Linked DNA regions of Homo sapiens. The protein of the gene in region 2 purifies or fractionates together with the protein of the main gene of each other region. This does not show direct contact. Each region holds a gene or a part of one and is shown on either strand. Other genes may lie near its edges. The genes, in order: RIMS1, DZIP3, ASNS, DHX36, RPRD1A, IVNS1ABP and TOM1.

What was found.
Region 1: the proteins of DZIP3 (region 2) and RIMS1 purify together in Homo sapiens (co-immunoprecipitation; one large-scale study listed by IntAct). This does not show direct contact.
Region 3: the proteins of DZIP3 (region 2) and ASNS purify together in Homo sapiens (affinity purification with mass spectrometry, with the first as the bait; one study listed by BioGRID). This does not show direct contact.
Region 4: the proteins of DZIP3 (region 2) and DHX36 purify together in Homo sapiens (affinity purification with mass spectrometry, with the first as the bait; one study listed by BioGRID). This does not show direct contact.
Region 5: the proteins of DZIP3 (region 2) and RPRD1A purify together in Homo sapiens (affinity purification with mass spectrometry, with the first as the bait; one large-scale study listed by BioGRID). This does not show direct contact.
Region 6: the proteins of DZIP3 (region 2) and IVNS1ABP purify together in Homo sapiens (affinity purification with mass spectrometry, with the first as the bait; one study listed by BioGRID). This does not show direct contact.
Region 7: the proteins of DZIP3 (region 2) and TOM1 purify together in Homo sapiens (affinity purification with mass spectrometry, with the first as the bait; one large-scale study listed by BioGRID). This does not show direct contact.

Annotation. Positions count from the first base shown.
Region 1 is NC_000006.12:71,888,834-71,893,450, forward strand, and holds part of RIMS1 (regulating synaptic membrane exocytosis protein 1), read left to right. Parts: intron 1-4,617. UniProt on the Homo sapiens protein: Rab effector involved in exocytosis. May act as scaffold protein that regulates neurotransmitter release at the active zone.
Region 2 is NC_000003.12:108,595,645-108,600,261, forward strand, and holds part of DZIP3 (E3 ubiquitin-protein ligase DZIP3), read left to right. Parts: intron 1-4,132; exon of another isoform or gene 4,133-4,242; intron 4,243-4,617. UniProt on the Homo sapiens protein: E3 Ubiquitin ligase proteins mediate ubiquitination and subsequent proteasomal degradation of target proteins.
Region 3 is NC_000007.14:97,854,966-97,859,144, forward strand, and holds part of ASNS (asparagine synthetase [glutamine-hydrolyzing]), read right to left. Parts: intron 3,991-4,179; coding exon 3,889-3,990; intron 3,441-3,888; coding exon 3,313-3,440; intron 1,852-3,312; coding exon 1,725-1,851; intron 495-1,724; coding exon 388-494; intron 1-387.
Region 4 is NC_000003.12:154,314,488-154,319,104, forward strand, and holds part of DHX36 (ATP-dependent DNA/RNA helicase DHX36), read right to left. Parts: intron 1,677-4,617; coding exon 1,552-1,676; intron 794-1,551; coding exon 559-793; intron 1-558.
Region 5 is NC_000018.10:36,028,839-36,033,455, reverse strand, and holds part of RPRD1A (regulation of nuclear pre-mRNA domain-containing protein 1A), read left to right. Parts: intron 1-2,358; coding exon 2,359-2,465; intron 2,466-2,550; coding exon 2,551-2,648; intron 2,649-4,617. UniProt on the Homo sapiens protein: Interacts with phosphorylated C-terminal heptapeptide repeat domain (CTD) of the largest RNA polymerase II subunit POLR2A, and participates in dephosphorylation of the CTD by RPAP2.
Region 6 is NC_000001.11:185,294,771-185,298,065, reverse strand, and holds the end of IVNS1ABP (influenza virus NS1A-binding protein), read left to right. Parts: coding exon 1-31; 3' UTR 32-1,678; downstream 1,679-3,295. UniProt on the Homo sapiens protein: Involved in many cell functions, including pre-mRNA splicing, the aryl hydrocarbon receptor (AHR) pathway, F-actin organization and protein ubiquitination.
Region 7 is NC_000022.11:35,326,880-35,331,496, reverse strand, and holds part of TOM1 (target of Myb1 membrane trafficking protein), read right to left. Parts: intron 4,227-4,617; coding exon 4,110-4,226; intron 1,151-4,109; coding exon 1,017-1,150; intron 1-1,016.

The DNA.
Region 1 (4,617 bases), on a different chromosome or scaffold from region 2:
TAAGCCTGCCGGCTTGAGGGAGGCAGAACCCTCGTTAATCTGCTGCCTGTCCCTAGTGGAAGAATGACGTCCCTGGTGCTGCAGGCTTCCCCTCTTCTGAGACTGGAAGTAATGGATGGTGTCTGATAGTGCTGCTGTCTGTCTGTCTGGTTGTCAGTCCGTCTGTACTCACTGGTTACAGCCCCTGCCACCTGTCCTGAACACCTTTTCGGCTTGTCAGGATTTACAGGTTTGCTGCTGTTCCTTTTGCTGTTTGCTGCAGACAGCAGGTGGATGGAGGCCTCCAGTAGCTAGTGGAAAATATAGGCTGCTGCTTGCCAGAGTCCGGATAGGAAGGGGAAGGCACGGTGCAAGTAGTGGCCATCATGCCTCTTCATTGGCTGTCTCAAGCATGGTGGAGAGTGAGGGATTTTAAGTGGGAGTGGGTGAGTTTTAGGACAGAATTCCAAACCTGCTAACTGCCAAAGGACAGCAATTATAAGATTGTATGGGCTTATATGGGCAAATAAAAATTAGGAGCACTGTCCAACTGCTCATGTCTAACACATCTTTTCCGCTGCTTTTCCTGTGACTGCTTTCTACTGGCTTGCATATATTGTTCCTTTGTTGCATGGATTCACAAAATATCACTGTATATGATGCTGTTATACAACAGCTCTCTATAATCCTGGACCTCTGTATTAACTTTATCCATCAGCCTCCTCTGCTAATGTCTTGGCCTTTTGTTCAGTGACAGATTGGTGAGTGTTTTGGAATCCCAGTTTGCTGCCATGTAAGCATGTCATATTGTCTGCAATTAGTGGAAAAGTGCTGTAATTTTTTTTTATAGGGGACACTTTATGTCTTAAAAACTGGGGATAATGGGAACTATTTAGATGACACATATATATGAGGACATAATGACACATAGTCATAGATGGTGGCCTTTTTAAAACTTTGTGTTAAAATAGATTGGAAAACAGGATTCTTTTAACAGGGCTTTAAAATATTGTTACATCAGAGAAAAGTTTTTGTGGTAATTATGGGTGATCATAATCACACATCTGAGAAATTACTTTCACAAAACGCTCTACAAAGCTTAAGTTCTGGCAATACGGCAATTAGACTTAAAATTCACTTGTGTTATTGGTGCAGAACTATCTCCTTAAGCTACCTACTGTGCATGCTGTCTCTTTTCACAATGTATAAAAATAGGCGCAGAGAGAAAATAGAAAATGATGGATGAATATGTGAAACCAACATTATAAAATATCAATTAAAATGTATTTGTAAGTTTCATCGGCCTTGATTGTAAATTACTAGTTGAATTTGGCTTTGAGAATGTCTTTAAATATGTATAAATGGAAAAAAATCAAGCTACTTTAAAATCAAGATTTTAGAAGATTTTATTTGAAATTGAAAGTACTTTATCATAAAAAGAATTCGTTTTGTTGGCAAAGTACACTAATTTTAAGTTTAATGGCCATATAACTGGAAATAGTTGGCTCCCACAAATTATGTTTAATGATTGACTTAATTATCTGCAAATTAGAGGTCTTTTCTTAATCTTAATAGTGTTTTGGATGTGAGTGTGTGTGTTCTGAAGGCTTTCTGAAACCTAACTTTCTCGATGAATACTCCTTCAAGTAACTGTTACTAGACATCATGAGCCAATATATTACATAGGCTGAAAACTGCATTATCTGGGACCTAAATCAGAGAAGATCTCATTAGATCTAGGATCTTACTCCTTTTTGTAAAAAAAAAAAAAAAAAAAAAAAAAAACTTCATAGAGAAAGCAGCTACTGAATAGTAAGAGAAGAGAAAAAATGTAGAGAGTTAAGGCGATGGTTTGAGGATGAGAATCGAGTACCATATTGGAATATAATGTAAATAGGTAACATTTATTGAACATTAACCTCACACTAGCTCTTATTTTAAGTTATTTAATCTAATGCCAAATAGTTAAACTGTGCTCAAGTTTATTATAAGTATAAATATTTGGATTCTCACAATAGCCTGTGCAGAAGGTAAACCAAATAATATAATTCTCACATCCTCACACTACCCTCAGAGAATTTAGTAATATCCTAAACTGACTCACATAACATGGTCCAATCATGATTCAAAATCAGACCTTTTAGTCTAAATCCAAGTATTTTCCCGTACACTACACTGTCTTCCTACCAAGAAGCAGCCTATATTTCATTTATATTTTCTTTAAATGAATTTATAGTCTTTTCTCAGTTGCAGAGAAGTGGCTTGGCAAAAAATTAGGCTGATTCAGATCAGCTGCTGATCACAGCAGAGCCTGGGGCTTCACCTATACTCTTTCATAGAGTGTTAGAAGGTAATAAAAAGCATCACAGTGTAGTGGAAAGACCATTAAGTTTGTATCCGAGTGTTTTTAGGTTCTAGTTCTAGTTCTGCCACTTACTGTGCAAACATGGGCAAGAAAATTAAATTGAGATTGTATGAAGTTTCATTTTTTTCCTACAAATCCTTCAGTCCATGGTATGAATTGATTTATAAAGAGTATTGACTTTGGGCTTCTCCTTCTCTTCTTAACAGGTCACCTAGCATTTGCTTTCTAATCATCCATAATTACTACTTTTTTCCTGGAAAGGAGAGAGAAAGTAGAATGAGAAGAATTCCTGTAACTTCAGCTTTCCTCCTCCTTTTACTTACTTTACACAAATATAATACTGTGGCCTGAAATATATCCATAAGGTTCATTATGAGAGATCCCAGTTACCAACTGGGAAAAGAAGAAAAGTGGAAGGAAAATCTGGGGAACCTTGAGGGGGATGAGGATAGCGTTCCTATGTATGCAGGTATCATATTTTCATTAGGGTTTGAAAAGATTTTAATATCTTACACCCCAAAATATGAAAAAGGCATTATTTAAGTAAATACATTACTAAATTAGAAGGAGAATATGGAAACCAGTGTGGGCTGGATGTGCTACTGCTGACTTGACTAATAGAAGCATAATGTCTTGGGAATGTTATTTGCTCAACTTTTTAAACGAGGAAAACAATTTTTGTAAACTTGTGCAGTGAGCTTCCTGGAAAGATATCAAATATGAATTCCTAAAATCATATTATTATCCGCCCATACCTGTAATAAGCAGATGGATGAGGTTGCAGTACCATGGCTTATAAAGTCAATTGTATTGCATTTAATTTGTCCTCATGGGCTGTTTTCTACTTTTATACATTTGGTCCTGTGAGTTGGGTATTTTAGAGTTGGTCCTGAGAGTCAAAGTAAATTTGCCTGAGGCACGTGGCAGCTAGCATAATGAATCCAGAATCCATGTACACTGACCTCAAACCATTATTGTTCTTTTAAGTCTTTAAAAAAGTGCATTGAGTGCTGGCTATTATGATTTGTTTCCCTCATCTGTTGGAAAGGAAACTAACATTTATCGTGTACCTTCTATGTATTATGCATTTGACTGGATGCTTTACAAATTTTACTCACCCAGGCTCACCTCTTGAAGAGAATTCTAGCCTGTGAGTATTTATTAGTTTTCCAATGTTAGTGAAATTCCCAGAACTAGCTTGGCATCTTCCTGACCCTTTGCTCATGACATTTGATTCTGGAGTCCAGAGAACAAAACTTAAAGGAGTGAGAGAGGAGCTTCATGTGGCTAGTAACATGTTCCACCCTTTTCTGAGGGTGGACTCTCCAGAACTGTCTGGCTTCCGCAGTTCTGGCCCCAGGTGACTCTCTAACCCCATTTGTACCTGGAGTTTTCCTTATCTGCTTGCTGTTTTGCCCACAGGGTTCCCTAATACCATAGCATTTTCCCACCATTCCACCTAACCATGAGTTATCTTTGTTTGCCACTATTGTTCTGAATTTTATTTATTAAATAGGCTATTTCTAACAAAGTGTCATATGATATTTAATTCAACAAGACCATTGTTTCAGGTATTAGAATTAGGTCAGGCATTAGGCTGCTGGGGTAGAATAAAGGCGAATCCTCTGCTTACAGCCCAATGTTGGCTGAGTTCCTATCATTTTAAAACTGCCGTAGTCAGAAAAAGAGGTGAGTGCTGGATAGTTGGATAGAACACTGGACTAGATTCTGGTCTTAACATTATGACTTTTTATAGGTGTGAACATTGTCAAGATAATCCATCCAAGCATCAGATTTTATATGTAAAGTGGAATTTATAATGGCAGTCCTTCTAATCTGTGAAGCTTTAAAATGATAGTGGAGTCATCATATCCTCCAAATTGCTGTTTCCAAGAAAGGTGCCATTATTATGCTTATTTGTTAAAACTGTAGAACACCAAGATTATATTTTCCAGTAGTCTTTGAAGGTACTAGGGGGCTTGGGAAGATGAGCTCTTGGAGAAGAGCCCACCTATCCTTTCATGCTAGCAATGCAGTGTTGCCAGGGTTGCAGCTCCCAGTGTGAGAATTTGACAAGGAGTTAAAAGGTAAAATGAGTTCAGGGCTTGGTCTGAGACTATATTTACCTTCTTTCTTTTCTTTTTTTTTTTCCCCTCTCATTAAATAGCTCGTACATGTTTTTAGCACAAAAAGCAATGTGGGCAAAGTGATAAAGTTTGAAAGATCTAAAAGGCAATCCTAATTCAAAAATGAGAAGAGAAATTAGCTTGGGG
Region 2 (4,617 bases):
CTAGCTCCTTTATTTCTTCTGGAAAAATCTAGAAAGAACATATTGTCTTCTATCCTGAATATATAATCTCTAGTAACCAGGGTTTAAGTAATAGTAGATGAATTAGACTGAATGAAGACTTGAATTATAGCTTTGACAGAACTGCAGAGTTTGCAGAATACTAAGTTTTGTAATATGGGAATTATACCGGGGTGTGAACACAGGGCTAATTGTTCATTCATTCATCTCCTGTATATTTAATGAACACTTGATGCTAGGTCCATTTCTAGGTTCTGGGAATACAGCAATGAATCAAATAGACAAAAATTTCTGCCCAAGTTGTTTTCTTATAATGGAGGATATAGACAATAAGGCATATAAGTAAAATTACATGAATGATAGCGGTAAGTATTAGGGAGTGAAAAAAGGGAGGAGGAATAGGAAGTATCAAAGTCAGGATAAGGTGTTACAATTTTAGATAGGATGGAGTACTAATTGATGTATGCCAAATAACAAATCACCTCAAAACACAGTGGTTGAGACCATGAGCGTTTATTTCTTGCCCACAGATTTGTGGTTGACTGCAGTTTGTCTGCTCCAGGCCTGATTTGACTGGGTGGCTGTGCTTCAGCCTTTTCGTGGAGAGGGGCAGATACCTGGATTTCTATTTAGGTTATGTTGTGATGTTAGACATCCAGGAGAGATTGAGTAGGCTATCAAATTACTGGTAGTTAAAGGAGCGGTCAGGGTTGGAGATAGAAATTGAAAGCCTTGAGACTAAATGATATAGGACCAAGTATGGATAGAAAAGACTTTTTAGGACTGAACTCCCTGATATTTAAGTATTTAGAGGTTGGAGAAGTGTGGAGGAACTGGCAAAGGAGACAGAAGTTAACTGCAAGAAGACACAGGTTCTGTCTTGACGCCATGGTTGCCTACAGGTACCAGCTTTACTTGTAGCATATGAGCTGCCTCTTGACTTCTAAAGGAGAATTTTAGGTTGGCCAAGAAGGCTGTTACAATCTACACACGGGCTCCCTCTTTACATCTGCCTTCAGAGGCCTTGAGGTGTGCAGAAGGGTGGGTGAGTTCATTTTTTAAAGCAATATTGAGTGCTTAACGTGTGCCAGGTGCTATTCTAGGCACCAAGGAATGAAAACAAAGTTTTCCTAACTTCATGGGGCTTATATTCTAGTGGGGACATGAAGCCAAATCTAAAACTGAGGGATTATTCAGTAGACATAAACGGCTGGTAGAACAAAAGTTTCACTGGCCCAGTTTCTAAAGCATGAAATCAGAAATCCTGCAGTAGAAAATTGGCACAGGTCTAGGCATGGGGTCATTTAGATAACCATGTGCCCAATATAGCTAAAATAATTCAAATGCTAATATTAATCTGATTCTACCCCTTATGCAGAGTCAGGAAACTAAGTGTATGATTAGTGTCAACTCATATTTTTCAGAAATGTTACCTTTGTCACAAAGCCAGAAAATCTAAAAAAAATTAATTCTCCTTTTACAATTATTTTTCCTGTTTTCTTTCACAAGTATCAAGTATTACAGTTCAGCTAAACTCTAAATGATTTGCCCAACCATGAAGTTAACTTTCACTTTTCAAACAGTTTCTGCTTTTTCTTTTTATACATTTCACAGCATTCAACTTTAGGTTAAGAGTACAAGGTTTGAATATTTTGAGTATATATTCCCCCATTTTCATATCTTATACCACATCTCAAATCTAATCACATCTATCCCAGAATAAGAATGTTGCCTTGCCTTTTTTTTTTAATGCAAGTACTATCCATTGTTTCTGAATCCAGTGTTAAGTATAAGTAGAGTGTAAGTAAAGATGAAAATGATATACTTTTAAGTTAAGGAACAGTAATCCTGGTAATTACTATTTCTTGAAGACCTATCTTCAAGATAGGTGCAGAGCATGGGTCTTTGCTTATCTCACTTTTAAATTTCTGGTCTTTCAGAAAATAAATACTATCAGGCTTATGAAATGAGTGGATATCTATTTCCTGAATTAAAATGTGAAGCTGTTTTCGAAGACAGTAGTGTCCAGAGTACAGTATGCACACCTCAGGGGATATGTGAAACTGTCCATTGAGGTGTGGGAACAAATATTAAAACGTTTTTTACTTGCTTTTATCTTATTCTTTTTTTATGTTATAATAATTATGCCTGCATATAATTTATAAGTGAATTGATATTCTTATATTTTCAGCATATTCTCAGATCTTTTACTGTTTTAGGGCTATGTGATCAAAAAAGTTTGGAGATTTCATTTTTAAAAATCTTTAACTTTGAGAGATCATTTAGCCAGGTGTGAACTATTGTCCATTTCATTGTTTATTTCAGTACCATGTATAGTATCTGAATTGTTTTGTTGAATAGAAAAACTCTTAGCAAAAACTAGTGTGACTAGTGACTATGAAATATTAGGCTGGCATGATTAATAACTTTTATAGTATTACTAAGAATGTGTAAATAGTTTCATTTCTGAGTATGCATATGTGCATATTATCTAGTCCAGCTCATAATTATACACTAAGCTTATATAAAATTAAATATGTTACTAGAAGTAATGGGACATGGAAGAAAATAGAATTGCAGTTGGTAAAATTTGGGCATGAATTTCTGCTCTTACGGATTTATTAGCTATGAGACTCTATAAGCCTCAGTTTCTTAATTTTTAAAACTTATTACAATAATGTTTATCTTCCATAGTTGTGTAAAGATCAGATGTTTATTCAAGGTGCATAGCTTAGAGCGTGGCACATAGGAGCTGATGAAAATTAAGCTTATTTTCAATGCAACCCAAGGTAATACACTCAGTTAATACTATATGAAAAGAAACTCTTTATAACCAAAAGCTCGCTCTGCCTTCTTACCTACACGCTTCTTACAAATGTATGCTTTTCTGAGATAACAGTGAGCTGCCAATTTTCTTACATGGGGTGGAGCAAGCTGGAGGTGGATAGGGCAAGCTTTCATTGGTGGTGGTAGAGGCAAGTACATGAAAGAAGTATTCCCATTCCCTATTTGATTACCATCTCTGCGTGCGTTATGTCTCAGGATTCTCCCTTCTTTTCTCATTATCTAACAACTATAATGACAACATAATATTTTTAAATTGCTGAAAATATTCCACCTTTGGAGTATGTGCTTAGGGGTAGCATATGCTTCTTCCAGTGGTTTCTAGCTACGTTTCTGAAGAGTGTGGTTTTAGCAGTGCTATCTGTAAATGTTTGAAACTGATGGCTTGTTTAGTATCTGGATAGTTTTTCAGGTAAATCCTAACTTGTGCATATTCATTGTAGGCACATTCCAACTATTCAAAACAAATTAATATGTATACTATAGGTTTACCTGTGTAAGTCCAAAAGTAACTAATTGAATAGATCTGAACAGAATTTAAAACCTGCTTAAGACAAGATGTTAATTTTGCTTTAGGAAAGGATGTTTCCCATGTTGGCAGATTTGTAACAAGGGGTGATGAGTATACATTATAAGGCACTTATTTCCTGGTTTAAGCAGATATATTGCTAACAGTGATCTTTGCAAAGTGGCAAGAGCTAACATAAACAGTGATCTTTTGGGATAGAAAATATCTTCCAGTTTCTGATAACTTTTGCAAAGATTTTTCCACCATCATCCATAAGTTCTGGAGTTTGAATAAGCAAACTGTATGTTCTTTGGGAGCAAATAATATTTTAGCTACTGGTGTCTAGGTGTATTTATTTTGTAGCTTTACCAGGAAGTTAAACAAATTAAAAAATGGAGAAATTAACAGTAAATTATAAAACCAAGTAATCAGTATATTTTGTTCATACTAATTATTGCTAATACAAAATAATGGTGCAACTTGTTAACTTGTTATTCTTTGAGTCTAACCTAATGGCCTCAGCCATTTTTGTCTACACAGAGCTCACTAACATACGAGAAATAAAGACTTTCATAGTGCTGTAACCACAGAACAACTGCACAGTGGACCGAATGTTTGTGTCCCCCCTCATTCAGTGTTGAAATCCTAACCCCCAATGTGATAGTATTAGGAGGTTGGGCCTTTGGGAGATAAATTAGGTCATGAAGGTGGAGCCTTCATGAGCAGGATTGTAAAAGGCCAGAGAGCTCTCTCACCCTCTTTCTACCATGTGAGGATACAACCAGAAGTTAGAAGTCTGCAGCCCAGAAGAGCACCCTTATCAGAACCAACTTTGCTGACACATTGATCTCAGACTTCTAGCCTCCGGAACTGTGAGAAATAAATTTCTGTTGTTTCTATAGTACTTTACTATAGCAGCCCCAATGACTAAGACAGTCATTTCAAAAGCCACAAAGAATGGCTAGTTATTGCTGCTAATCTAGCAGATGTACTCAGATCAACAATAGTTAAAATTCTGATTCCAAGGAACTCCTATCACAAAATGTCCTGCCATGTTCTTTGAAAGTGTTTTCTTCAGTGTTTTTAAGGGTTGAAGTGACCATAGCATCTTGATGTGTCAACTTTGAGGAGTTTTTTGGAATTCTTTTGGTAAAATTTAGCAGAAATGATAACTAGCAGTGTCAGAGTCTGCTTGTTAACAGACCCATGATCTTCTGGAGTACATTTAATTCAATGTTGAGTTAGGA
Region 3 (4,179 bases), on a different chromosome or scaffold from region 2:
TATTTTTAACTTTTTTTTTTTTTTTTTTAAGAGACGGGGTCTTACTCTGTCAACCAGGCAGGAGTGCAGTGGTGCAATCACAGCTCACTGCAGCCTCAATCTCCTGGGTTCAGGTGATCCTCCCACCTCAGCCTCCTCAGCAGCTGGGGGTATGAGCATGAGCCCTCATACCCAGCTGTAACTAGTTTTAAAGAATAAAAATTATCTGACACATTAAAATTTCTTTCTTCCCCAAGAGATAGAAAGCAAACACTATCAGATTCCCTTTTGTAACCTCACAAGATACTCAAAAATATCACTGTCATACTGAAAGATGATAGAAAATAGTCAAACAATTCATACTTTTCTTAATATAGCATGAATATCCCTCCACTTCAGAGTGGTTACCTTGTGAAAATATATGTAACCCTGCGTAAGTTCATCTGATCCTTCTCCAGAGAAGATCACCACGCTATCTGTGTTCTTCCGAATATACTTGGAAATTAAATACATACCTTAAATGAGAGAGAGAAATTAACTTTAATGTCAACATAACCTTCCACCAAAAATGCCTTTGATTTGATTTTTGGAAATAATTGAAAGCTTTACTACTATACTGGACTTCATATTAATATAAAGTAGTTTCCACAATAATGACCTTGTATTTATAAGCCATTTATATGTACTTAATCCAAAAGTACTACTGTAAAATAAAATAACCCGGAACCATTTTGTCATTTTCTAAACAGGTTTTAAAATTCTAATGTTTTTAGACCAAGAATGTCCACCTCAAAACTTTGCTAAGCTGAACAATGACTCAAATACCTAAAAATCATGCCTTTCATAGTGGTATTATGACACAAAAATAAGAATAACCGTTTTGGTGGTTTAGTGTTAATTTTGATGGGTATTTTCCCCCTGCCACTCCCCATTTACCAGATTTCACATAAAGCTGGGGAGACTATATAAGTTATTAAACTTGCCTCCTTGGTCCTGCACCACATCTCTCTAAACCAGTGTTTCTTCTCAACCTTGTTTTTATTATCACCTCAGCTAGAGAGCCTTTTTAGACACTTATTTTCCTAACCTCACCCCAGCCCCATGAAATTCCAATACCAGAGCTATCCTGTCTATCTGCTTATTTACTGTGATGTTTTGGAGGGCCATAAACCATTGTAATACCTAAGATATTTTTGCCTTCCAAGGCAAGTCTCTCAAGGGAGGCAGTAGCATATAAAGGCTCAATAACACTGGATCAGTCTGATTTGGGGTATACTTCCAATCTCAGTAGATACATTATCTACAAGATAAAATTAGTATTGTTTGCAGAGCAATGATAGCTAGTGACTGGTAAGTTGTGTGATGGAATATATCTAAAATGACTATTTCTTATCAAAAATGCATTACCAAAAAGACCTATTTCCTCACTGTATATAGACTGTAGCCCAAGAAACTATAAGAGAAATGGGAGGTAGAGGGCAGAAAATATGTATCTGCTCCCTGGGGAAACACCAACAGTGACACCAACAATGTGGAGGTTGAACTACGTATTTACTATTCCCTTCACTCCAAAAGAGATTCAGAGAATTCTTAAGTGGTCTTAAATAATCAGTAACATAGGGATTTAATTTGCATTCATCCTTAAATAACATTTTAAAACTATGGCTTGAAATAATTTTTTTAAACCTTACATTTTTTTCAGTATTAAAAAAAGCTTTTTATTTAAGAATATCATAATACCTTACCTACTGAAGCACGAACTGTTGTAATGTCATAAGTTTCCAAGGAAAATATGACTTCATCCAGAGCCTGAATGCCTTCCTCAGAGTTAAAAAGGACTTCATAATGTTCACTTCCAATATGATCTGCCACCTTATTATATAAAGAAATACCCATTTACTTGTTAAAGAAAATAACTTCCCTTGAAAATCAAACATGATGGGAGTTCACAAAGCTTTATGAATTAACAATGGTGAAAACTAAACAAGGGAAAAAAAGAAAAATGACTTTACAGCCCACCACATACAAGCCCCATCCAGCACTGTTCCCTCGCCTGCTTCAACTCCACCACCAGGAAGTAAGTCTCCCCTCAGCTCCTCTGGTGCCAAGGCTTCAACCATTCTCCCAGTTGGCACCTCCCTCTCTACCTATTTTACCTAACCCACCTCATCTCTCTCTAGTCCAACATGGTCCCACGCTAAGCTTGGTCTTTTTTGGTCCTTCTTAAATGCCTAATTTTATATCCAGGATGTTATTCTTATATAGAATGGCCCTTCCCCTCATTCTGCTTTCCTTGGCTATTTTGGATTCTCTCGGCATTGATTACCTTGCACTGAGACTGCTCTCTAGCTTTTTCTCATCCATGCTACGAAAGTCCTCCATAGTGGGAACTAGGTCTCCCGCTCACTGAATACAGACAAGCTGCCCTCTGCCCACAGTATTCTAAATACAGTACTTTCAAAAATAATAATAACAGCTAACACTCATTAAGTACTTACTACATGCTAAGTTCTACCCTACTTACTTTACATGAATTATATCATTTCACCTTAAAATTTCCCCATAGCAGACACTATTATTTTGGTTACATAAATGAGTAGAGCCAGGATTTCAAACCACAAGTCAGGTTCCAAAGTCTGCAGTCTTAGCCATGATACTATGCCTTTACGTTTAAAAAAAAAAAAAAAAAAAAACGAACAAAAAACCCGTTTTTTTAATTTTTCAAGATGGGGTCTTGCTACGTTGCCCAGCCTGGACTTGAACTCCTGAGCTCAGACCTCCCCCCACAGCCTCCCAAGTATCTGGGACTATAGGTGTGTGCCACTGCACCTGACTTATGCCTTTACTTTCTTTTTTTTTTGAGACAAGGTCTCACTCTGTCACCCAGGCTCCCATAAGGCTAAGACTACAGGCATGCGTCACCAAGCCTGGCTAGTTTTTGTATTTTTTTGTAGAGATGGAGTTTCATTATGTTGCTCAGGCTGGTTTCAAACTCCTGACCTCAGGTAATCTACCTCCCTCAGCCTCGTAAAGTGCTGGGATTACAGGTGTAGGCCACCATGCCCAGACACCTTTACTTTCAAAAGAGCATACTTATCATCATAGGGTCTTTGTGAGAATTGCATGGGTCATAACAGATAAAAGTACACAGAGGACAGTGTACAACACAGTGCATATCCAACAGCCATTTCATTCTATTTTAATACAATCAATTTAAAACAATTGACCCAGTCAATACAGCAGCAGTAGAATCACCCATTATTGACTCCATTTTCATTCTAATAACAAGTCTACTCTAACTACACTACACAAGGGACAGAGACAGCACCTTACCTTTCTAGCAGCCAGTAAATCGGGGCTGTCTTCCATGCCAATTGCAAATGTCTGGAGAGGATACTGTACTTGGGCTTCTTTCAGCTGCTTCAACAGAGTGGCAGCAACCAAGCTGGAGTCCAAGCCCCCTACATGCAAAAGAGGAAGTGGAAGTGTCCTAGTTATGTGCCTTGCATAAGACAGGGACAGAAGATGTATATTCCTGATAAACACCAAGATCATAGTTTTACTATTTAAAATCCGCCAAGTTTTATAAACTGAAATCAACTTCAACAAGAGAAAAATATATAAACTGTGATAATAGTAGTATTTGAATTGGTTAAAAATCACTACACAGAATTCTAAAGAACATTCACTGACTCACTCTTAACACCAATAACATAGCTATAGTGTAACTCAAGTTGGAGTATGACTATGACTATTAAATACAGCTTATAAAAAATCATTTCCATCCTATAATGAAGGAAAGAGTAAATCATACAGTAAATATTTTATAGTAAAAACCAAAGGGATGGCTACAAATCATTTCAATTAAACACACATGAAATATAATTAGGTTTTTTTAATTGACTTCACCTGATAAAAGGCAGCCAATCCTTCTGTCTGTCATCAAACGTTTCTTTACAGCATTATTAAAAAGGATCCTGAGGTTGTTCTTCACAGTTTCTATCTCAAAACCTATAAACACAGCAGTAAATCAAACAGCTCCAGAAAATCTTGGGCTGGATTAGTTATTGAAATGAAATACACAATCATCAACATCTATCATGATGGTATTTACTCAATGGTGGAGTGTGCCAAATCTTAATGTGTTCCCTCCAAACAAAATAGGAAGTAGGTCTTGAAACTAAAATCATTCAAATGATG
Region 4 (4,617 bases), about 46 Mb from region 2:
TACATCTCTAGAACACCCACAAATCACACAATTTTATGTTTTAACTGAAAGGGACCTTAAAATATCTTGCCTAGCATAGAAAGAAAATATCAGAATTCAGGAGATCTCAGGTGTTGTGATAGTCCTGTATTTAAAATGTTAGTGAACAAAGCACATCACATAATTTTTGAAATATTTAATTTTATCATCTATAAAAAGAAGATGTATTAAGTAATCTGGAACAAGCTTTACAATTTTAACTGCCTTTACTGCACATGGCACCTCACTAAACTGGCCTAGAAAAGCTGAAGAGTAAGTTTTTTTTTCATTGGCACTAGCATTTCTCAAACATTTCTTCTCACCACATAAGCTTCTGTGGATGAGATAGGATACTGTAGGTTATGTGTAACTTCCATTCCCACTGCTTTTCTCTACCATTCGAAAAGAAATTAATTCCCACAGGGATGTCTTGTTGAGGATCTCACTGATCTATGCCATGCAGCTACCTCTAACCATACATACATTTTTATAAAGTGTAAGAAAAAAATGACAAAATATTTTTTGACATCTTTCTACTACCTGCATTTCAATATACCGAAGGTCATTTTTTTTCTTTTGTAAATCTTCCAATAATTTTTGGTCTAAAGTTCCATCTGGTTCATTTTCTTGCAAGAGATACTCAGAATCTCGGTCAATATATGATCTGTTCCTGATTCTAAACATTTTTTTTTCTTGATTTATCAACTTCTTTTCCTGGATGTCAAGTTTGTTCTCTGAGCATGGTGTGTTCTTAGTAGAAACTTCAGTACCGTATCTGTTTTGACAAAATAAGAAAGGAAGAAAGGTCAGATGAGCCACTCAAACACTGGAACAAAACAAAACAAAACAATACGCTGTTGAAATATTTCAAAGTCATCCAAATCCAAAGCTTTTCTTTTCTCTTAGTACAGTAATTATGAAAATATACTTAGATTCTTATAATAAATTCAAATTTTTCTTCCCTTTAAATAGATATTGCCAGATTAAGTTATTCCTTGTGATAGTTAAAAATAAAAATCCACAGAATAGTCATTCCTTCACTGCGGTTACTTACAGTGTTTCTCTTTTTCTGGATTTCTCGAACTTGTTTTATGTCACAACATCTTTTTTTCTTGCCACCCTTTCTGAGCTACAAATAGGATGCTACAATACACAGTCTTTGAAATACTTGTACTAATTTTTCCTCTAAATGATACAGTTCTTGTAATCTTTCTAAAACGGTAGCAATTTCACTTCTTGCAGATCTCCCAGACAGAATAATTTCATAAATACAAAGAGGACAGGTAGGGAGAACAATAAATAACAACTTAATACATCTCATATCCAGATACACTATTATTCATACCATTTAGCTTTCCTATGGAAACATGCCATCTAAATTTTTAAAAGTCATTTTCTAAATCTGTTTAATCTACATAAGGAAAAAAAGTACGTAAAGGTTAAAATTCACTTATCGAAGAAAATAAAGATGTTATTTTTATTATTAAAGTGTTACTCTTTGCCTATTCTTTAAAAAAATATTTCTTGTCGTACCCATGATCCTCAGGAGCAAACCAGGATATCTGTGCTTCTGACTCTTTATCATTCTTCGCTTGAACAGAATTCAGTAACTGTACAATTTGTTCTTCTCGTCGTTCATCCATGTGTACTACAGCTCTCTAGTTTGTGCAAAGAAAAAAGCATCCTTGTCAACATAAGAAAGCATATGCAAAAATTATTTGATACTGAAGAAAATAAAGGCTAAGTAATATATGTTCAACAAATACATATAAAAGAAAGTTATCCACAGGTGTCCTCTAGCCCAATACCCCCCTTCCTAGACCTAATTAATTGTTAAAATTTTCGTACATATCCTTCTAGACCTTTTCCAACAAGCATTTATAAAATTAGCCCTAATATGATTGGCAAAGAAAGCTCATTTATGTCTCTTCCTACAACTCTGGTTCTCTTACCCCAAACCCTCACATACTAATTATTATGAATTTCTCCTTATCTTAAAATTTCAAAGTTATTAAAACTCAAATGGTTTACGAAAAAAGTTGAAAACTGGAAATAGTTTGGTTGTAATGAACATTTGAAAGTTCTTACACTAAACAGAAGAATAAATTGGTAAGTAAGGCTGAGCTCAGAAGGAGTAAATAAAATTCATCAGTGCTTATAAGGTGATCCAATGTGGCAAATGACGCAGTTGCTTCAAAGAATGAGAATAAAACACAACAGACTGGACAAATATAAAGGTCCTTGGTGAACTATGAAACTTTGCAGAAACTTTACGCATCTAAGAAATGTCCAAGGTGAAAAAAAAAAAAAGAGAATGAATGCCAAAACCCAATTCTTTGGAGACTTTTATATTTAGATATAGTAAGTTGAAAAGTTGAAAAACAGATTCTTCAAAATTTATGGGACTACAAACCTTAGGTTCTAACGTGCATATAAATCCACAGGCAAAAGGAAACACACGCGGAGTGGTGAAAATTAGAGTGTGTTAGGTTAAAGAACCAAAGGAGGAGGAAGGTAAAAGTATAAATGGAAAGAAAACAGTCAAAAATCGAAAGAAAGAAACCACAGGACTTAATGACTATTTGGTGGAAGTTGGGGAGAGACAAAAAGGAAGAAAGAATCAAAGAACTGTTTTCAAATTCAAGGGTGGATCCTGAGAGAGCAGCAGTAAGATGAATCATTAAAAGGAAGCTGCTCTGTGTTACTGTACATTTTTGTGTACATGTGGTGGTGATGGAGGTCACAATAGGATGCTAAGTTTGGATTTTAGGCAATTAAGAACAAAGATGAAATTTCCCGACTTGTAATAATGACTAGGTAGATGAATATATGGAAATTGATCTCTGAGAGGTTTTGTTTTTAGAGTTATGATAGAAATTTTGGAGTGTTCTGCAAAGTTGAAATCACAGAGACACAGGAATTCTCTTAATTTACAAATAATACCACCTCCAAAGATGAGGACAGACGGATGACCAAGTCTGGCATTCACGGGGCCAAGGCAAGAAAATAAGTCAGAGGAGTAATCAAGAGAACAAACAAAAGACTAGGAGCACACAGTGAGAAAACCACTCCTATGAAGTGAAGAAAGGTGTTAAAAAAGGACTCAGAAGTATAAAATGGACGTAAGTAAGGCAGAGAACTGAAAAAATTACTACTGTATCCAACAACTAGGCAGTTGGGAATGATCTTCAAGGTATTTTTGGTTTTTGAGGTTTGGTTTTGATTTTTGGGGAAAAAAGAGGGAAGCAGGAGCTAGGGTAAGGAGACTGATGAAAGCAGACAGCAATGTGTAAAATACTGTAAAATCTAGAGCAATAGATTTCAATTGTTTATTTTTTATAGCAATCCACAGTAAAACTAATGACCCAGTACACACATATACAAGTAATTTCACAAAATACTTCCCTTACTCTGTACAGTGCAACTCTTATCTTCTCTTCACTGTATTCTATCCCAATTAAACAAACACCAAAATAGCTGGTCACAACAAAGTTTAACATAAAGTTTGAAAACCCAGGGTGGGTAGAGGAGTATGTGTCCCAGGAGAACAAGACATAAGCATCTTTAAGACAAGAGACAGGGTTTTGTAAGACATTCTAATTCTAATCAGTATTACATGCTTTGTGAAAGCTCAAATAAGTTTACATGGGTAGGAGGATAACCTAATGTAATAAATATGAGAAATCAGTGATAAAACAACAAACCTGAAGAAGCAAAGCAAATGAACTATATGTTACCTCCTTTTTTGAAGTGAAAATGAGTGGCTAATTTCAGTTGTCAGGACATAAAATGTCTCTACTAAAAGTCCTCTTAAGGTTTTTTGATGTATCTGTTTAGTTAGAATATAACCTATATCTGCTATTCCTACAGTTCTCACTTTTCCATGTTAACTCATTACTCTATATTTTGTTTAGTAAACAATTTCCTAGATTGACATTTCACAATACATTGCCCACTTCCTGCCCGTAACAGCACAAAAGATTATTCTAATTTTATGAGATTTCACGCCCCCGGAAAAGGTGAATTACTGGATAACATAACAGTCTACTGAAAATAAACAGATCTACACAATCTTCCAGTCCAAACTATCACAACAAAATTCATTTTCATTAAAAAGTCAACATCAGTTGGTAGACTTTAAGATACCTTACACAATGCATATGTACCAAGTAAGCATCTGCTAATCAATAAGGAATTAGTTGAATTGTAGTACACCCAGTGGTTAACAGTGGGTAGATCTTTCTGCAAGTATATAAACAGGAAAGATGACCAAAGTATTAAATAAGTCAGTTGTGTAGTAGGATCTTGTTTTTATTACTATTAATTTGAAAAGAGGTTATTCACTCTCCATATCCTATACTTCTTGCAGTGTCTCTGCCAGATATAATTCTGGTACATGGTATGTGCCCCAGAGAAGTCTGTCAATGGAAGGAATGAACAGCTGAATCTTTTACAATGAGCATGTATGATTAGCCCTTGAAAATGTAATTTACACTCTAAATAAAAACATTTGTATTTTTAATGATGTTCTCCCCACAATGAGTTTCTGGATGCTGCAGGTAGCAGAGAACATACCTTAATTCCAAACTTGGATCTTGC
Region 5 (4,617 bases), on a different chromosome or scaffold from region 2:
GAACCAACTGCTATATTGGAATGAACTTCATTAAAAATGAATGAAGGTATTGAAGTAAAAATTTGTGTGTTTATAAAGCTATCAGTCTTGTAACAAATATTTCCATATACACTTAGTACTGTTTCTATTCTTTTTTTTTTTTTTTTTTTTTTTTTTGAGACAGAGTCTCACTCTCACCCAGGCTGGAGTACAGTGGTGCGATCTTGGCTCACTGCAACCTCTGCCGCTTGGGTTCAAGCGATTCTCCTACTTCAGCCTCGCAAGTAGCTGGAATTACAGGTGCCTGCCACCATGCCTGGCTAATTTTTGTGTTTTTAGTAGAGACAAGGTTTCACCATCTTGGCCAGGCTGGTCTTGAACTCCTGACCTCGTGATCCACCTGCCTCGGCCTCCCAAAGTGCTGGGATTACAAACGTGAGCCACCATGTCTGGCCTGTTTCCATTCTTTACTTGCCCTCTGGGTAATTTTGTACATCGCATGTATTTGGTTATTCTCCACACCGTAATGACTTACAGTTTTATGCTCCAGTCCAGATTTTTTTTTGTTCCAAACCTGTGTGCCCAATTGCCTTTTGACATTTTTACTTGTATGCGTCTCAAACATTTCAGACTCACTGTGTCTGATACAGAACTCATTATGTCCTTGCTTCCCACCGTACTTGTCCCTCCTGTAGGTTTTATACTCTGTGAATGGCAACTCGATCTATCCAGGTGCCTATGCAAGAAATTATGTTACCTTTAAACTCTTCTTTCTCCTTCAGTCCCCATATCTCACATAGTACACATTGACTCGGTTCTTTGGATTTCTTTCCCTTTTAGTTACCATAATGTATTTTCAGTATAATTTTAATGCCCTTTAGTATTGTTTAATTTCTTTAGAAAACTCGACAGAGTTGCAGAGCTGGTCATAATACTTCCTTGCCTTTGAGTGGTTCCCATTTGTTTTAGAGATGAAGTCTAAAGTCCTGAGCAAGACTTAAGGTGTTCCTTCGTGGCACTGCCTATCTCCCCAGACCTCTGTCTCGCATTTATTCCACACAGTCTATAGTCTACAGTTTAAGCTAAATTAACCTTTTTTAGTTCTTTCCGCCTTAAGTCTTCTATATATGTTGCCCCTCCCTAGAATTCAGTAAAATATTTATTGGCTGCATAAATATTTATTATATGCAAAACCCTGAGTAGTAGTGACCAAGACAGTTTTGTTCTACTGGAGCCTACATTTCATTGGATGACAAAGTTAATAAGTAGATAGACAAGTGAATGCATAATGTCAGATGACAAATGCTAGCAAGAAATACAAAGCAGGGAAGGAACTAGATAGTATGAGGGCGCTCAGTTATGTGATGAGATAAAGAACAACTATTTGGGGAAGGTGGCATTTGAACAAAGACTAAAGGAAGGGGTGAAATGAGCCATTTGACTAGGCAGAAAGGATTCTAGGTAGAGAGAATATGTGGCCGAAAAAATGAGATAGCTTATATGCTGGACATGTTTGAGGACCTTAGCAAGGAGATTTGTATGGTACTAGGTATTAGGGAGTGTGTACTGAGGGACTGCCAGAAAGCAGAGCATGTGGGCCTTATGGCCCAGAGTAAGGATTTTGGTTTTATTCTTGATGTGATTGGTAGCTCTTGGAGGATCAAGAGCTGTATAATCTGATTTACATTATTAGGATGCTTTGTACAGAATAGAGTAAAAGAGTAGAGGCTGGGAGAGCGTGAGAAGACTTTACAAAATTCTAAGCAAGAGATAGTAGTGTTTCTGTCTACAGTGATAGCAATGAAGGAGGTAGGAAACAGTTGGGAGTAGTCTGTTTTTCATTTCCCCATATGTCTAGTCTTAAGATCTCAAATTAAATATCATTTCCTTAAATACTCTTCCGGATATCTCTTAAACAGGGCCAGGTCTGTCTTAAGCACTTTGTTCTCTTTTGTGATACTTATAAATAACAACTGCCATAAGCTGCATTTGCATCTCCATGTCAAAGATAGTAACTGGATCAATAAGTATTTGTTGAATAAATTTAAAAAAATAACCTATGAGAAATCTTCCTTAGCCCCATGTCCAGGCCCCATTAGGATAGGAAATCCCTAGCAGCCAGTACTAAAACTTTTACAGTTTAAACTTTTTTTGGTTGTGTAATAATATGTTTATAAAATGTTTACTAGAAGCAAGCAGTGTGTCTAGATCACTTCACTTTTGAGCTGCTGGCCACATAGTGATGCTAAGTAGACATTTGGACAGTTTTTTCCAGGGAATGAATGTCTGATTATATTTAAAGTTACCGTTAACCTTTTCAATAACACTATGCATTGTTACTGTTAACATTTTTCTTTTTTTCTTTTTTTTTTTTTTTAGTGAAACTGATGAAAGTTGTAAGAAGCACCTTGGAAGAGTGTTATCTATTTGGGAAGAAAGGTCTGTTTATGAAAATGATGTATTAGAACAACTTAAACAAGCTCTGTGTAAGTGTAGAATCCTGATCTCTTACCTTGATCTCTTCATTAAAATGTATTCTTTCATTAATACTTAAATGTTCTTTCATTTCAGATGGTGATAAGAAGCCTAGGAAGCGAACTTATGAACAGATAAAGGTGGATGAAAATGAAAACTGTTCCTCTCTGGGATCTCCAAGTGAACCACCACAGGTAGAAATTTTACCCTGTTAAAAGAGTTACAAACTTTTACTTCATGTTGCCACCAAGCTTTATTAATTTCGTTTCACTTCTGTAAATTGATTTCTATTATACTTTTAGGTACAAGAAAGAAGCCACATGAATATCTCTTCCTCATTAACAAATTGCTTATGTTAAATGTAGTATGTTGTATATTGTATATTTTGCATAGAAATCATGTTTTGTATAGAAAGAGGATTTTTAATTGCCAAATATGGTTAGATGTGAGATGTTAGCTATTTAAACTTTTTAAAATAAAACAAAACATGCCTATTTTGTTATGTGATTTTTTTTTTTTGAGACGGAGTTTCACTCTGTCCCCAGGGCTGGAGTTCAGTGGCACTATCTTGGCTCACTGCAACCTCTGCCTCCTGGGTTCAAGCGATTCTCCTGCCTTAGCCTTCCAAATAGCTGAGACTACAGGCACGGGCCACCAAGCCCAGCTAATTTTTGTGTTTAATAGAGATGGGGTTTCACCATGTTGGCCAGGCTGGTCTTGAACTCCTGGCCTCAAGTGATCCTCCCACCTTGGCCTCCCAAAGTGCTGGGATTATAGGCATGAGCCACTGTGCCCGGCTCATGTATGATTTAAATACACTAAAATTTTCATTCTTGGACATAATCACTGCCCCTTTAAGTATTTTTGTTTTTAAATGTAAAAAGTAGTGTTAGAGTGGCCGGGCGCAGTGGCTCACGCCTGTAATCCCAGCACTTTGGGAGGCCAAGGTGGTCGGATCATGAGGTCAGGAGATCGAGACCATCCTGGCTAATATGGTGAAACCCCGTCTCTACTAAAAAATACAAAAAATTAGCTGGGCGTGGTGGCGGGCGCCTGTAGTCCCAGCTACTCGGGAGGCTGAGGCAGGAGAATGGCGTGAACCTGGGAGGCGGAGCTTGCAGTGAACCGAGATAGCACCACTGCACTCCATCCTGGGTGACAGAGCGAGACTCCGTCTCAAAAAAAAAAAAAGTAGTGTTAGAGTGATATATATGTGTTCATACATTTCTTTGTAACTATATAGAACTATGTAATTCTGTGGAAAAATAAGTTAGAATTATTATCTTAACACTCTGTGTCCTCCTACATGTTGGTATGGTATGGTATTCCTTAACCATCAGATTAATTCCAGAAAGACTTTTTTTTTTTTTTTTTTTTAAGTGGGCATTGAGTCTTTAAGCTTCCTCCTTCTATGTTTCAAACATGTAGGCGGGACAGATAAAGTGTAAAATGAGAAAATGAAGACATAACCATACTCTTAAAACAAGGCGAATGTATTTTCATGGGTTAGAAATTGTACACCTAACTTCATAGGTGAGACAAAACCTGGCTCCTGCTGAGCCCTGGTCCCGAAGCAGACATGGGGTTGCCAGAAATTAGTATCCTTTAAGGTCACAGGAACTCACAAGGGCAACAGGAACTCACAGTGCTCCGTGGGAGTTAGAGGACTGGTTCCAAATTCACTGAATAAAATCAGAGGCTGGGAGGAGCTCTTTCCCCCATGAAGGTGAAAGAAAAATACAATCAATTACTACCTGTAACTGTGGATTTATATTAGTCTCAGTACTGGAGAAGCAGAAGGAATCAGACCAAGGCCACGACCTGAGTCAGCCTACCTGTTTGTTCAGTGATAGGAATGCTGAAGCCCATTGGCCACTATGGACAAGAGCTTGAATAGAAAAGTGATAAGAATGTTACATTTGGAACAACCAAACACTAAGATTTATGTCTCTTCCTATTTGGTAATAACTCATGACAGAAAATCATTTTTGGCTAAGAGCCTCATGATTCTATGAACAGTGTTTTACCTAAGTTCTAGATAAAGGATCTGGTCTCCTTCCGCTCTCCCTGATGAAAGGGTAACCACAGTTGCATATCTTAGGAGTATTTTTAAGTAATCATCTGCCTCTCCTCTAGTACTTGTGTAAAATGCTGTTGCTCTTT
Region 6 (3,295 bases), on a different chromosome or scaffold from region 2:
GAGCCCCTATACAAAGATTTTCCAGTTTTAACAAATTTAAGACCCTCTCAAACTAACAGGCTTAGTGATGTAATTATGGTTAGTAGAGGTACACTTGTGAATAAAGAGGGTGGGTGGGTATAGATGTTGCTAACAGCAACACAAAGCTTTTGCATATTGCATACTATTAAACATGCTGTACATACTTTTTGGGTTTATTTGGAAAGGAATGCAAAGATGAAGGTCTGTTTTGTGTACTTTTAAGACTTTGGTTATTTTACTTTTTGGAAAAGAATAAACCAAGAATTGATTGGGCACATCATTTCAAGAAGTCCCCTCTCCTCCACATTTGTTTTGCCAATTTGCACATTAAATGACTCTTCCCTCAAATGTGTACTATGGGGTAAAAGGGGTAGGGTTTAAAGATGTAGACAGTTGGGTTTTTTAAGGGCCCTTTTTCAATAACTGGAACACTCTATAACAAAGGATACTTATTTAAATAGATGACATTGACTATTTTTGTTTTTATTAAAAGGAAGCTTACATGCCTACCAATATTTAATCTTTTATGATTGCCTTTTTATAACTTTTTATATTCTCAGCAGAGTGCTTTACCAATTGAAGTAAAATGTGGCAGGCTGGAGTTATTGAAGCAGAGTGGCAGTCTTCAGTTTGCAGAGTAGGGGTCTGTCTTTTAAACTCTGAGTGCAAACTTCAGAGTTCTTGCCTTGGCTGCAGTTTTTTTCCTTCAAGAATGCAGTACTAACATTTATTTGAGTGGAGTTACTGAACAGTAACATAGCTGTGATTTTTGGTATTTGAAACACTGGTTTTAAATATTTTGACTTGTTGAGGGTATGTTTTATATAGCAAGACATTATATAGCAGTAAAAAATGGTGTTTTATCTTCTATATAATTCCTGTTTTTATTATTAACAAAACAGTCCTAAATAGCAGCCCTCAATTGTGAAAAAATTTACTTTAAACTACATTAGGTTGTGAATGCAGGTTTTATCAGAACTATGTTTTTGTTCAGTTTATCTGTTCATATGGATAAATATTGGTTGGGATGACTTGGTGTCTAATGTGTAGTGCTACACACCTAACTTATGGGGCCAAAATAGCATGTCCTAATGCTTGCTGCTGATTTAAACACATTAAAGGTACTTTGCAGGAAATCCTTGCACCATGGGATTAATATCCAATTGCTGCTTGTACACTCATTCATTACTAAAAGTTTTGAGAAATTTTTTTTTCCAGTAATGAGCTTAAGAAATTTGTGGAAAATAACTCACCTGGCATCTTACATCTGAAATAAGGAATGATATAAGGTTTTTTTTTCTCACAGAAGATGAAGCACACAGGAACCTAATGGGCCAACTGGGATGAGGTGACTATTCTGAGATGACTATTCAGTGGCTAACTTGGGTTAGGAAGAAAATAATTAGGTATTTTCTCCAAATGTTCACTGGTACTCTGCCACTTTATTTCTCTCATCTGTTACACAAAGAACCACCAGGAAAGCAAATCAGTTTGGTTGGTAACTCTGTAATTCCTAACTATCACTGGTTTGGTTCTGGACTAAAACTACATTGACAGATTGAATTTGCCTAATATGATGACTGTTTTTAATATGGATCTGTATGTGTTCTATTCAGCACAAGGAAATAAAATTTTAGTTGAGGATTCAGCACTAAAATCCTTGAGATCACTTCTCATTTCATAAGTGACATGCTTAATGCAAATAATATATGGGAATACTTTGGGTCAAAGTTTTCCTGCATTACCTTGGATGCCAAAGAGGTAGTTTGGTGGCCAAAAAGTATCTTTTTTTAAGAAGCTGTTGTAGCTAGTCTGCATGAACATGAGAAGTTTCCATAAAGGAAAAAAAGCAGTGCTCAGTGGCCATTTGTTACTGTTAATCTGTATCTAAAAGGTACATACTTTCTTCAGAGAGGGAGAAAATGGCATAGCCTCAGCACAATTTAAAAAAAAAAAAAAGCTTTTTAACCAGTAGGAATTTTTGAATAGTTTCAAAATAATATTGATAATACCACACTTCTGGTCAACTTAATAAAACACTCTAAATTTCCTAAAAAGGTAGAAAAGCTATAAAATATCTAAACCAAATATTATTGGTTATACTCGGGTGGATCTTTTATTATGAACTTTAAATGTAGGGTTCTGATTTTTGGCTTCTAGTGTGTCATGTACTTTACCACTGCTCAACATGTTTTCAAATTCCCAATATAATAATCATATTTTAGGGAAAATCCAGGATTTGAGTATGTGATATATCATTAGAATCCTTGCTTAATTAACAAATTAGGTGTGTGCCCTATTACCTCTCCTGACCTCAGAATTCTTAAAATTGAAGTAGGCAAAGGAGGAGCCCCAGTAGGACATTTCTGTAACTGCATGCAGAGTTGCCTTCAGAAAAGTGAATATGATTCATGGAAAATTCAGTTGCTGTCGTAATTTACACGCAGCTGCTTTTTGTTCCAAAAAAAAAAGGTCTGAAGAGTCAGCAAGTGAGACATAAGATACAAGGTTAATTAACTAGGTGTAAAGGAGAAAGAAAAACACTCATATATGAATCCTTAAATCCTTGGTAAGACTGAGCTACAAGTTTCATCCTATAAACAGGTTTTATTAAGTTAAATCAGTGTCTCTAGGTTAAAAAGGAGTAATTGCTATGAATTGCAGATATCCTTCATAATAAAACTGCCAGTTTCTCAAGAATATTAATGACACTTTGAACAAGTAGAGTTTATAAACAGGAACATACAAACTCATGTGAATGTCATGGGTTCTTCAACCTATGAGCATCAATAATCTTGGCCAATAAAATAATGAACTTTATTAACAGCTCCACACCTTACTGGGTGGAGAGAACAAAGGTGAGAAGCAAAACTCAATCATTATGCTGGATCTGTGTGGAATGCCTTTAACAGAGGCATATATCTGAATAGAGGCCACACACTTGCTCAGGATGACCAAAGGAAGTAACATAATTTTAGCCAGAAAAAAAAGGCACACAGAAAGACCTAACTTGGAGTAATGAAACTACTGAGATGAAATGTCCAGCAAGGTAATAAGATGAGATCTGTTAAAACGATTTTTAAATGGGTAAAATATTTGAAGACACTTTGCAAAAGAAGTTGATGCCATAAGAACACAGGAAAATACTATCATAAATCATTAAGAAAATGTAAATTAAAACCAAAATGGCATACACCTATTGAAACTGAATATACCAAATTCTGCTTACGATGCAGAGCAACTTGAACTCTCATACATTGCTGGAGGAACTGCA
Region 7 (4,617 bases), on a different chromosome or scaffold from region 2:
CCCCAGCTGGTAGGCACAATGAAGCTCAGCCAATCCAAGTCTCTCTTGGGGATGTGACTCTTGAACAGAATGATACAAGGTGGGCAGGTGGGTGTGGTGGCTCATGCCTGTAATACCAATGCTTTCGGAGGCCAAGGAGGGAGGACTGCTTGAGGCCAAGAGTTTGAGACTAGCCTGGGCAACACAGTGAGACCCCTGTCTCTGCAAAAAGAAAAAAAAAAAAAGAAAAGAAAATTAGCTGGGTGTGGTGGTGCATGCCTGTAGTCCCGGCTACCTGGCAGGCTGAGGTGGGAGGACTGCTTGAGCCCAGGAGGTTGAGGCTGCAGTGAGCTGTGATCATGCCACTATACTCCAGCCTGGGTGACAGAGCAAGATCGTGCCTCAAAAAAAAAAAAAAAAAAAAGGTGGACAGGTGTTTGTGGACAAGTGTTTGAGCTGATGTATTTATTGATGGCAGCACCCTGGGGAGATGGTCCAGGAATTTCTGCTCCTGAGACATCTGAGCTGCCCTGGGATCCATCTTTCTTGTTCTGTTGGGAGACATCAGTTTCACTTTTCTCTGGATTCTGAAAGCTACCCATTTAATAAAGATTATTATCCTAACAAATTCTTTTTCTGCCTAAGTTAGCCAGAAATGTTTTGTGTAGCTTGCAGCAGTGAAGTCACTTGTCTAAGGCCCCAGAACCAGGAAGTGGTGGAGTGGGCGAGGACACACCAGGCCAGTCTGGTTGCAGGGCCGTGCTCTCAGCTGTGACCTGTGACCATCTCCCAGGGCTGGACTTGGGCACAGGCAGCAGCGCTAACCCTGGAAAGGAGATACAGGGCGGCTGGAAGGAGGGGCCCTCATAAACATCCTGGAAGAAGACAGCTGAGGGCACAGGCCCTTAGGAGCCTGCCTTGTGTTTGAGAGGAGGACGAGAGAAGGCTCAGATGGCATGAGACCAGGAGAACAGGGAGGAAGGGAAGGGAGAGGGTTGGGGCAGTAGGCCAGAGGCCAGGGGAGGTGCTGGGGCTACCGTTCATGGCGCAGGAACACATTGTTGAGATTGTCATTGACGATGAGCAGCTCCTCTGTCAGCTGCTCATTGGCGATCTGAGGGATGAGCTCCAGGACCCGCTGCTGCATGGCTCGGCACGTGCGGTTGAGCTCCTGCCAGGAAAGGAAGTGAGGCAACCACAGTCACATGACTCAGAGTGAGGCCGTCTCTTTTTTTTTTTGTGAGACGGAGCTCTGTCGCCCAGGCTGGAGTGCAGTGGTGCGATCTTGGCTCACTGCAAGCTGTGTCCTGGGTTCATGCCATTCTCCTGCCTCAGCCTCCCAAGTAGCTGGGACTACAGGCGTCTGCCACCACGCCTGGCTAATTTTTTTTTTTGTAGTTTTAGTAGAGACGGGGTTTCGCCATATTAGCCAGGGTGGTCTCGATCTCCTGACCTCACGATCTGCCTGCCTCGGCCTCCCAAAGTGCTGGGATTACAGGCGTGAGCCACCGCGCCTGGCCAAGTGAGGCCATCTCTAATGCACGGGCCTCCAGCCCCTGCACAAGCCTTGGAGGAGGGTGAGGTGCCCAAACTGGACTTCAAGGTTCCACGGAACAGCTTTTTGGGTTCTACAAACATGAACTTGAACTTCACTTCCAAGTGTTAGATGCTAAAATTTAATCCACAGGAAACCATCAACATGTCCAACTGTGCTGCCGGTTTAACTTGGCTTCGTGCAGATTCCAGAATAAAGGTTGTGCCACCATCTTTGCTTAGTCAAAAAAAAACTGAGTCTGCAAAGGGGGCTGGCTGAACAAACCACAACTTCTGGGGGTATGCTGTGATTTTTGCAACCAAAGCATACAGAATGAACTAGATGACTGCAACCATTAGCCACAAACCTCGATTTCGAGTTTTTGCCTCACTTTTCTCACTGCCTGATTTTTTGTCTTTTTAAACAAACTTTTAGCTTTGGAATAATTTTAGATTTACAGAAGAGATGCAAAGATAGTACCACAAGTTCCCATATACCCTTGACCCTGGCTTCCCCTTAGTCTGGCATTTGTCAAAACTGGTAAACTACCATTAAACATTAAAACTGGTAAAATACTATTAACTAAACTGCGGACTTTATTCAGGTTTCACTAGTTTTTCCTCTAATGTCCTTTGTTTGTTCTAGGATCCTACACTGCATTTAGTTATCACGTCACCGACTTTTAACCACTAGGTGTCATATTTAAACTTATGAAAAATAAAAAAAATGGCTACACCCGGTGGCTCGTGCCTATAATCCCAGCACTTGGGGAGGCCGAGGCGGGTGGATCACCTGAGGTCAGGAGTTCAAGACCAGCCTGGCCAACAAGGTGAAACCCTGTGTCTACTAATAATACAAAAATTAGCCGGGCATGGTGGTGTATGCCTATAATCCCAGCTGCTTGGAAGGCTGAGGCAGGAGAATAGCTTGAACCCAAGAGGCAGAGGCTGCGGTGAGCCGAGATCGCGCCACTGCACTCCAGCCTGGGTGACAGAGCAAGACTCCGTCTCAAAAAAAATAAAAAAATAAAAAACCATAGCCATATGGGTTTTCATTTTTAAGATTGGTCAATTATTTCTTCAGGTACCTGCCACCAGGTGAAGGTTCCTGGGTCACGGCAGGTGCCTGGGTCCTGAGGTCCAGGGAGCTGCCCGGCATTGCCGACTGTGGCCTCACGCCAGCACGCCTTTCTCCTGGAGGCAACGCTGAGGCTCGGCACTGCCCAGTGTTTATTTTGGCTGTCATGTGGACCCTGTCCCCTGCCCCCTCCAAGGTCAGGCCTCCGGGATTTCCTCATCGCCCTTAGCACGGGGACAGGGCGGGTGCCTTTCAACATCCTGTGGGCTCCCCTCCTGCTCTTATGACCAAGCACACGGTGGCTTTGCTTCTGCTTCCCTGCTGGCCCCTCTCAAGAGCAGAAGAGCAGCACTTGGAGCCAGGCCCCCGGGTTCAAATCGCAGCTCTGCTACTTACCAGCCATATAACCCTGGACGTGTTATCTGATCTCCCTATGCCTATTTCCTGACCTGGAAAATGGGGGTGGTCAGGATTACGTGAGCGATGTGAACCAAGTGTCCACATATAGCCCGGGACACGGGAAGTGCCCAGTGCATGGGAGCTGTCCCTGCATCCACCTTGCTCAGCCTTCTGAGTCCCCAGACTGCTCACATCTCATGGCCTTGGCTTGGGGCGTGCGAGGCTGCCTGCGCAGTCTTCTCTCTTTCGGAGCCCTTACTGGGTTTCAAGTTTGTGTATTCACTGGACTCTGAGGCTACTCCTTTTCTCCCCACCCTGCACCACCAAGTGAGGACCCCTGCAGAGTCAGCTCGGTCAGGCACACAGACACGGTGGCGAGGAAGACACAGCGCTGCCCTCAAGGAGCCTGAGGCCTGGTGGACGAGCAGTAGGAACTCGAACAGTTACACGAAGCGCTCTGTCTCCTCATGGATTCTGGTGACTCCTGGGCCTTGGGGATTCCTAGCTCTCTTGGTGCCTCTATGACTGGCCTCCATGGGGAGGGTGCTTTTTGCCAAATTCAGTGTCCCTTCTGCTCCAGTGACCCCCAATCTGGGCTGGGGCCGTGGGAATACCATGTGACACCCGGGAGCAGGAACCACTAGCTCCACCTGCCTTGGCTCCCCAAGATCAGTGGCTGGCGCATCTCAAGGCTGGCACCACCCTCTCACACCTGCCTGCTGAGTCTCGGATTCTGAATGGTGTAAATCTCACCTTCCAGCTTTTTCTCAGGACCCCTTACTGGGTGCTTTACTCTGTACCAGGCACAAGCCTGCGTGTTTTTCATGCAATACCTTATTTAACTCACATCAAACTTGTGCCATGAAGGCTATTGTTAGAGCAATCTTACAGATGAGGAAACTGAGGCCAGGGGGGCTACTTTGTTCAAACCAGAAAGTGGTAGAGCTGCGATCTGATTCCAATCTGATGGCGTCCAAAGTCCCTGGTGGTAACATGTCCCCAACTGTGACCAAGGAGTATGGAGTAAGCCATGAAGACTGTCATGAGGATTGGGAAAGAATGCATGTGGGCAGCTGGGCAGGAGTCATCTGAGCCCCAGGGGGTGGTGCCACCTGCTCACCTGCAGCAGCTCCAGGTCTGCGGGCTCGGCCTGGGTGGGCACCAGCTCCGTCAGCATCTCCGACATCACCCTCACGTTCCCACTCACCATCTCCAGCTCACTGCGCAGCTTCCCAATCTGAAACACACAGTTGATCGTGGTGAGAGAAGCCAGGGTTCTGGGGCCCATGTTACTCACAGCGACAGAACCCAGTACCACCAACCCTGGGTGCAGCACCAGGGAGCCGACCTCCCAGCAGCCTCTCTAGGCAGCCTCCCTCCTGGCTCCCAAAGTGACAGCTCTGCACTAGAGGCCTGCCCCACCCCTTCTACAGACCCCTCACAGAGGCGCTACCAACCGTTACCATCTCCACACCGGAATGAGCCACCACGTGTGGCTGGAAGACTCCAGCATCTCCTGGGTCTAACACAGCAGCTAACAAGGCCCTGGAGGGTGGCTCCCCACAAGGCGGGGAGGGACGCTGCAGGCCCTCTCTCTCTCTCCCACTAGAGGACTGGGATTCTGCCCT